Linked DNA regions of Homo sapiens. The protein of the gene in region 1 purifies or fractionates together with the protein of each later gene. This does not show direct contact. Each region holds a gene or a part of one and is shown on either strand. Other genes may lie near its edges.

Region 1 (3,648 bases):
AAGGCCAACCTCCAAGCTTATCAAAACCTCATGCAAAGCACGTGCTGATGGGCTGGGAAGTCCTGCGTGAGCCCTGAAGGTGGCTCTGAGGGGCTTCCCTCATCCCTTTGCTCCCAGGCGGGCCCCACGGGGTGCAGGTTCTCAGATGACTCTCTGAGGTGTGTGAATAAGGGTCTCTGTTCAGGCGCGTCCCCACAGGAGATGAGACCACAGAACGCAGCCCTGAGTTTGAAGCATCCCAGAAGGTTCTTTCTCTCTGACCCGCACACCCACCACTGTTCTGGGTGCTCACAAAACCCACCATTGCTTCTGGTAATTTCTCAGCTGCTCCTCCTGTCCAGCGACCCCTGCTGCAGAGGCCCAGGGGAAACACAGACCAGGCCTGTGAGAAGCTCCTGTTTCAGACAAAGAAATGGTGTCAGCGATAAAACTGGAAACTGTTCCCAGCTCGACACCTGACCTGGCCCTTCCACCCCCAGGATCCTGCCCCCAGGCGGCCCTTCCACCCCCAGGATCCTGCCCCCACGCGGCCCAGCCCCCACCAGGATCCTGCCCCTGCATCCTCCGCTGGGTTGGCATCTGCATTTTTGGTGCCTTCCAGGGAAAGGGGTGAGTGGGTGGGGCCTGAGGCCCTTAAGGTCCTCAGTGGAGGGAGTGCCCCTGGATTTTTTTCTGGCTGTTTTGGGGGAATTTGTGGGATCTCAGGGTCAGCAGCGGCCACACTCAGGACCCCACGATTACAGAGCCACACTTTGGCCATGACTGGCGCTGAGAACTCCAGATCTGAGAGGGCTTCGTGAGTCCCAGGGTTGGGACACCTACCTGTGTCCTCGGCACGGACCCTCCCACCGGCTCTTGTGTCTGTGGGCAGAGGCCATGTTCAGCTCTCAGTGCAGTGCTGACGGCCCACCTGGTGTCCAGGCCCCTTTGGGAAGCAGCTTTCATGCCCTGAGTCCAGCACCTCAGCCTTGAGTCCTTCAGGGCCTGACTGGGTCTTACCGAAGCCCATGCATGGTAGGGAGGTGGCCTCGGCAGCCCTGCCCTGTGGCGTAGCCCTGCGTCCCCAAGCCCTGCCTGGGTGGCACCCCTCAGTCTTCTCAACCCCATGGCCCAGCCGCCTACTCTGGGGGCGGGCGCCTTGCAAAGTCCAGAGGGCGTCCCTGCGCCCTGACACCGGTGCCCCCACCACTGCCTCAGCCCTGCACACTGGCAGTCCCCTCCCCTGGCCGGGGCCAGGCCCAGGGCTCCTGGGAAGAGCATCCTGAGGCGCCCCCAGGGCCACCACGCACCCTCCCCAGCCTAAAGCTCCATCTAAGGTCAGAGGCTCTGCAGTGGGGAGGGAGCGGCTGTCGCACGACTGCTGTGGACCCTCCCAGAGGAAGGCAGCACGTCACAGACCCTGGGGAGTGCGTGATCCCGAGGTGTCCTCCAGAGCTGCAGAGCGGGCGTCCACAGGAGGGACAGTGGAACTGCGGCGGGGAGGGGACCCGGAATAGGCTCTGATGCTGCCAGTCACACACTGAGCCTCCTAGGCCTGGAGCCCCTGGCACCCAGCTCAGCTCCCACCCTGGGCTCTGCGTGCTGCTGGCTTTATTTGGCTTAGGGGGTCCTTGGCCCAATGATGGCAGTGGGCAAGGCCTCGCTTGGCTCCACTCTGCCCGGGGCTGGACATGCGTGCCTGCGGGGCAGCTGGCTCCAAGGGTCTGAGGGGCCTCACGCCCAGCCCCAGGAGGGCCTGCCCATCTCAGCCCTCGCCACGTCCTGGTGCTCATTGGTACGGCGGGGTTTCCTGGGCTGCACCCGGCTCAGCTGGGACATGGCCCGGGTGACACCTTTCTCCTCTCCTTCCTCCATAGCAACATGGCTGACAAGGCCAAGCCTGCCAAAGCTGCCAACAGGACGCCCCCCAAGTCCCCGGGGGACCCCTCGAAGGACCGGGCAGCCAAGAGGCTGTCGCTGGAATCGGAGGGTGCTGGTGAGGGGGCAGCCGCATCCCCTGAGCTCAGTGCCCTGGAGGAGGCCTTCCGGCGCTTTGCCGTGCACGGGGACGCCAGGGCCACCGGGAGGGAGATGCACGGCAAGAACTGGTCGAAGCTGTGCAAGGACTGCCAGGTGATCGACGGCAGGAACGTGACCGTCACTGACGTGGACATCGTCTTCAGCAAGATCAAGTGAGTGCGCTGGGCTCACGGGCCGAGGGACCTGACTTACGGGGGTCTGCGGCCCTGAGCCCCTGGGTGGGTTCTGTGGGGAGCGGGCCATGGGGAGTGGAGGGGGTTGTGCTTCAAGACCCCGCCCTTCTCAGAAGCAGCCCTGACATGGGAGCCTGAACGTGCCATCTGGGCCCCCAGGGAGCAGGGGTCCGGGCATTGCCGGACTTCTCGGTGCCGAGGCCTGAGTGGCAGCCCTGGCTCCTCTCAGCCCCGTGGGTGTGTAGGGTTTCGGCATGGGAGGTGGCCTATGAGGGGATGTCTGGCCTCAGAGCAGACTCGGGGTGAATGCTGCTCCCCGGAGTCAGGGAGCTGTGACTGGGATCACTGGGCTTCCCCAGGAGTGGGGGCAGTGGCTGCCTGGAGCCTGGAGGGGCAGGTGGCTGCTGGCGGGCAGAGCTCCTGACCCTCTGTGGGCTGGCTCAGCGGCTGAGTCTCAGAGGTTGGATGCTTGTGTCCCCATGCATGGAGCTGGCCATTCGGGTGTCCCCCAGCCCCTCCCAAAGCCTTTGTGCTGCTGTATTTCTGCCCCAGGATTCCCACGGGCGGCAAAATGGCAAAGGGCACCAAGGAGGCGGCTCCGGCCACCACCTTGAAACCGCATCGTGCCGTTTGCTTTTTCTGCGTCGTGTGCACGTGTGCGCGTTTCTGTGTGCACGTGTGTGCGTTTCCGCGTCGTGTGTGCACGTGTGCGCGTTTCTGCGTGTGCACGTGTGCGCGTTTCTGCGTCGTGTGTGCGTTTCTGTGTGCACGTGTGCGCGTTTCTGCGTCGTGTGCGCGCGTGCGTTTCTGCGTCGTGTATGCGCGCGTGCGCGTTTCTGCGTCGTGTGTGCATGTTTCTGCGTCGTGTGTGCGCGTTTCTGTGTCGTGTGTGCACGTGTGCGCATGTGTGCATGTGTTTCTGCATGTGCACGTGCGTTTCTGTGTCATGTGTGCACACGTCTGTTGCCGTGTCACGCATTGTCTGTTTTCTCCTGGATGAATGCTGGGAAGCACACTGAGGCACCCTCACACGCCCCAGCACATTTCACCTCATGTCCCGACACCCCACCATGATCGCACCCGAGAAAAGCAGCGGTTCTCCCTGAGCCCCGTCCTGTCCGCCTGTGTGGCAATGGCTTTATTTCGGTGGTTTGCACCTGCGTCCTCCTGTGGCCGATGTATTTCATTCCTACATTGCCGCAAACTCATCACCTCTTTCATCTCAGAGCTCCTGCACCTTCCCCCTCTGCGGCCTTGGCTTTGCAAGGGGCCGGGCCGTGGGTCAGATGCCCCTGTGTGGAAGGCTGTGGGGCCCACCTCTGCGGCGCCAGCGCCCCATCTACCAGCTCTGGGTGGGCGCCGTGACCTTTGCAGCTGTTCCGTCTCTGCTGTGCTCCGTGGCGATGTCACATGTGTCTCCCGGGTCACACATCCCCTGGGTCTTGGGTGTCTCCTG
Region 2 (3,648 bases), on another chromosome or scaffold:
TCAGCGCTGGACGGGGAGCAGGCAGGCGCTCAGGCCAACCCAATCCCTGCAGGAGAAGCCAGGGCTGCTCAAACATGGGAGTTACAGCCAGAACTCAGGAAGGGCCCCTGTCCTTCAGGCCTGACTGTCCATCTGCCTGAGGGGGTGCCCAGGACTAGGCCATGCAACTTGTCACAGCGCTGGAGGCTCTCCTCCCCCTTGAAGTCCCAGGCCTTGAGATCCCAGGGACTAATGAGCCAGCCCTGCCACACAGCGGGGATGAGTGGCCCGTGGAAACTCACCAGCAAAGCCGGGAGGGCGGGGCTACCTGAGGGAAGGCTGTTGTCATACAGTTCAAGGCTGAGGAGTGCCCAGTGCACTTACCATCTCCACCCAGGTGCCCCCCACAGGCACAAACTGCCCACGGCACGCAAACTCCTGGATGCGGGAGTACAGGCCAGGGTAGCGGCTCTTCACCCATTCCAGCTGCTGCGCCTGTGGGCAGGTTGAAGGGAGCTGGGACCAGAGTGACAAGGGCCCCACCCAGGACTGAGCATATGGGACTCAGTGTGTGGCTGAGGGTGAGGAGCAGCCCTGACCCCAGGCCTGGGAAGCCTTCAGGGCCTGTGGAGCTCCAGGGAGGGCCACGTGCTTCCCTCCTCCCTCACAGCTGTCCCTCTGACCTGGGAGCAGGCAAAGATGAACTCAGGGTTCCGCTCCATGAGCTGCAGGGCGGTCACCCAGCTCCGGGCACATTTCCTCACAGTCTCTTTGAAGGGCCAAAGCCAGGCTATACGGGGAGTGAGGTGGAGGACAGAGGGAGCAGCAAGGCTGACCAGGCCTGGGCTGGGACTCCAGAGGGTCACCTAGCCCCCCTCCCATCCCAGGCCCTTCACCCTGGAAAGCCCTGTGGTGTCCCTCCTAAGTGGTCACTTCACTTCACTCCAGCGAGGTGGGAGGAGGGGCTGGGGAAAGGAGGCGGCAGTGCTATGAGGCCAATTATACAGGTCAGGAAATGGAGGCTCCAGGCCCCAGAATAGCCTCAGTCCTCTTGGGGAATTAGACATCCCCTAGAGGATCCTACGAGAAGTAGCAGGGACTACCCTGCCCCTGCACAAACTTGATGTATACCTGGGAACAGAGGCATGGCTCCCAGGATGGAGCCAGCTGTCCTACCAGAGGTGCTACAGCCTCTCCTGACTCCCAGGCTGCAGTTCCTCCCTTACCAGCCCAGAACCTCTCACACCTTACCCTACATCTTGGCACAGCAGAGAAAGCCCTTGTTCTGTGATCCCAAAACTTCGGCTGCATCAGAATCAATACCTTCAGGAGCTTGTTAAAAATGTGGATTTCCCGTAAAACTCAGACACTGCAAACTTGTCCAGGAAGCCTCTCTGGAATCCCCCAACCCAGCTGGAGTAAGTACCTCTCCTGTGCTCTCCAGTGCCTCAGACTCCCCACCATTGTGACACCAACTCTGCCTGCTGAATCTGTCTCTGTAATCCTACCCTCAATATCTAGCATGGGCCCCATGAGGCATCAGATTTTGTTGAAAGAATAAATGAGGCTGGGCACGGTGGGTCATGCCTGTAATCCCAGCACTTTGGGAGGCCAAGGCAGGCGGATCACCTGAGGTCAGGAGTTTGAGACCAGCCTGGCCAACGTGGTGAAACCCCGTCTCTACTAAAAATACAAAAATTAACCAGGCATTGTGGTGGGTGCCTGTAATCCCAGCTACTAAGGAGGCTGAGGCAAGAGAATCGCCTGAACCCGGGAGGCAGAGGTTGCAGTGAGCCGAGATCACACCATTGCACTCCACCCTGGGTGACAAGAGTGAGACTCCGTCTCAAAAAAAAAAAAAGTGAATCCAAAGCAAGCAGAGCCCACAGTCCAGCCCCCCGGCCCCGTTTTACAGACGGGGAAAACGCAGGTCCAAGAGGAGCAAGAACTTGCTGAGCATCACACAGTGCTTCTAGGGCACATCCAGGTCTTCAAGGGCACTCCTGCTTCCCCAGCCAGCCCAACCAGCTGCTGTCCTACCTGTATCAATGTGGCAGTGCCCTGTGGCATGAATGGTGTGTTGGCTTTCACCCCCATGTTGGCCAAAGAACCTGGAGGCCAGGGCCTGGGCCACTGGGAAGGTCTCGGGCTGGGCAGGGTCACACACGTTCACCATCTGATTGGCTGTGTACAGGGCCTGGAAGCTGCGCTGGTTGTCCTTCCCGAGGCCCTGCAGCAGGGTTCTGCCCCTTAATCCCTTTTTCAAGCACAGCTTCCAGACCTAGGCTCCACTGATCTCAGGGCTCTCAGCAGAGCTCCCCTGACCCCCAACCCTTTTTCCCTGCTGGTCCCCCTGCTCAGCACCGTCTCCCTCCTCCCCTTCACATAGGAAAATTCTCTCAACCCTCAAGCAGGTGGAAACCCTCGTCCTACTCTGGATTCCCAGAGTCCCATTTATCTGACCCAAAGAACAACCTTCTTGGAGCAGGGCTCTAGAGGGTAGCAGGGGGTACAGGGGGTGTCAAGTACCTTGGCTATGCCCAGCAGCAGCTCCAGATCCACCAGGAGCATGTGGACATCCCGGTGGAACACAGCTAGCTCAGCCCGGCTCAGCTGGAACATCTTCTCAGGGTCAGGGGCTGCAATCATGCTTCCCTTCCCGGCCCCCAGGAGCCCATTGCAGGCTACTTCCACATAGAGAGTGAGGCTACAAAGATGGGGAGACAGCCTCAGGCTAAGGGACTGGCACAGTACTCCGGGGACTTGGGGAAGGGGCACCCAGGAGGCATCCAGCTGAGCCCAACCTGTCTGCTTCCAGGATCCACTACCCAGAGGATCCCACAGTGTGACAAGAGTGCATGTGGGAGGGTTGTGGTACAAACACCAGATGGATCCCATGTCTTGCTGTCAGAGAGAATAAGTAGCAAAGTTTGGAACCATGTAAAGTACGCTGCTGTTTAGTCTTATATTTCCAAAGTTGTCTTTGCAAAGCACTGCCTTGGTCTTGGAACCCTCTTTGCATATTAAAATCATGTTCGGATCTCCCAGGCTCAAACTTTTAGACCCAAGATCTAAAACCAACACGGCCAACATGGGCGGGCCATTCATTGGAGAACAGGCTGGGCTGTGGTGATGCCATACTTAGGCTTCAGAGAGCAAACACGACTTCCTTAGGGAGGCCTTCCTGACTCCACTTCGCTGCTAAGTCTAGAGCAAATTCCTCAGTGGAGTACCCAGGATTTCCTTCCAGAGCCCTCAGTTTTGTAATTATATGAGTGAATCTGTCTCCCTTTGTTGGCAAGGGCTATTTTATTCACCACCATACTCCCAGTGTCTGAAAGCATCTGAAACAGTGTCAATCTATATAAAATACATTCATAATGTCTAAGAAGTGTTTTTAATGGTGTCATAAAATGTCCATGTTATAACATGGAATGTAAGAAGTCAGGATACAATCTTAACTAGTAAAAACTATACCGGGATGAGCCGGGCACGGTGGCTCATTCCTGTAATCCCAGCACTTTGGGAGACTCAGGCAAGTGGATAGCCTGAGGTCAGCAGTTTGAGACCAGCCTGGCCAACAGAGTCAAACCCCGTCTCTACTAAAAATACAAAAAATTAGCTGGGCATGGTGGTGGGCACCTGTAATCTCAGCTAGTAGGGAGGCTG

Evidence for each region. Proteins that work in one complex are often made in the same cells at the same time.
Region 2: the proteins of TPPP (region 1) and MAN2C1 purify together in Homo sapiens (affinity purification with mass spectrometry; one large-scale study listed by BioGRID and IntAct). This does not show direct contact.

What each region holds. Positions count from the first base shown.
Region 1 is NC_000005.10:676,273-679,920, reverse strand, and holds part of TPPP (tubulin polymerization-promoting protein), read left to right. Parts: exon of another isoform or gene 1-412; coding exon of another isoform or gene 413-609; intron 610-1,856; coding exon of another isoform or gene 1,857-1,860; coding exon 1,861-2,171; intron 2,172-3,304; exon of another isoform or gene 3,305-3,648.
Region 2 is NC_000015.10:75,361,980-75,365,627, forward strand, and holds part of MAN2C1 (alpha-mannosidase 2C1), read right to left. Parts: intron 2,687-3,648; coding exon 2,509-2,686; intron 2,210-2,508; coding exon 2,020-2,209; intron 770-2,019; coding exon 663-769; intron 475-662; coding exon 364-474; intron 1-363. UniProt on the Homo sapiens protein: Cleaves alpha 1,2-, alpha 1,3-, and alpha 1,6-linked mannose residues on cytoplasmic free oligosaccharides generated by N-glycoprotein degradation pathways.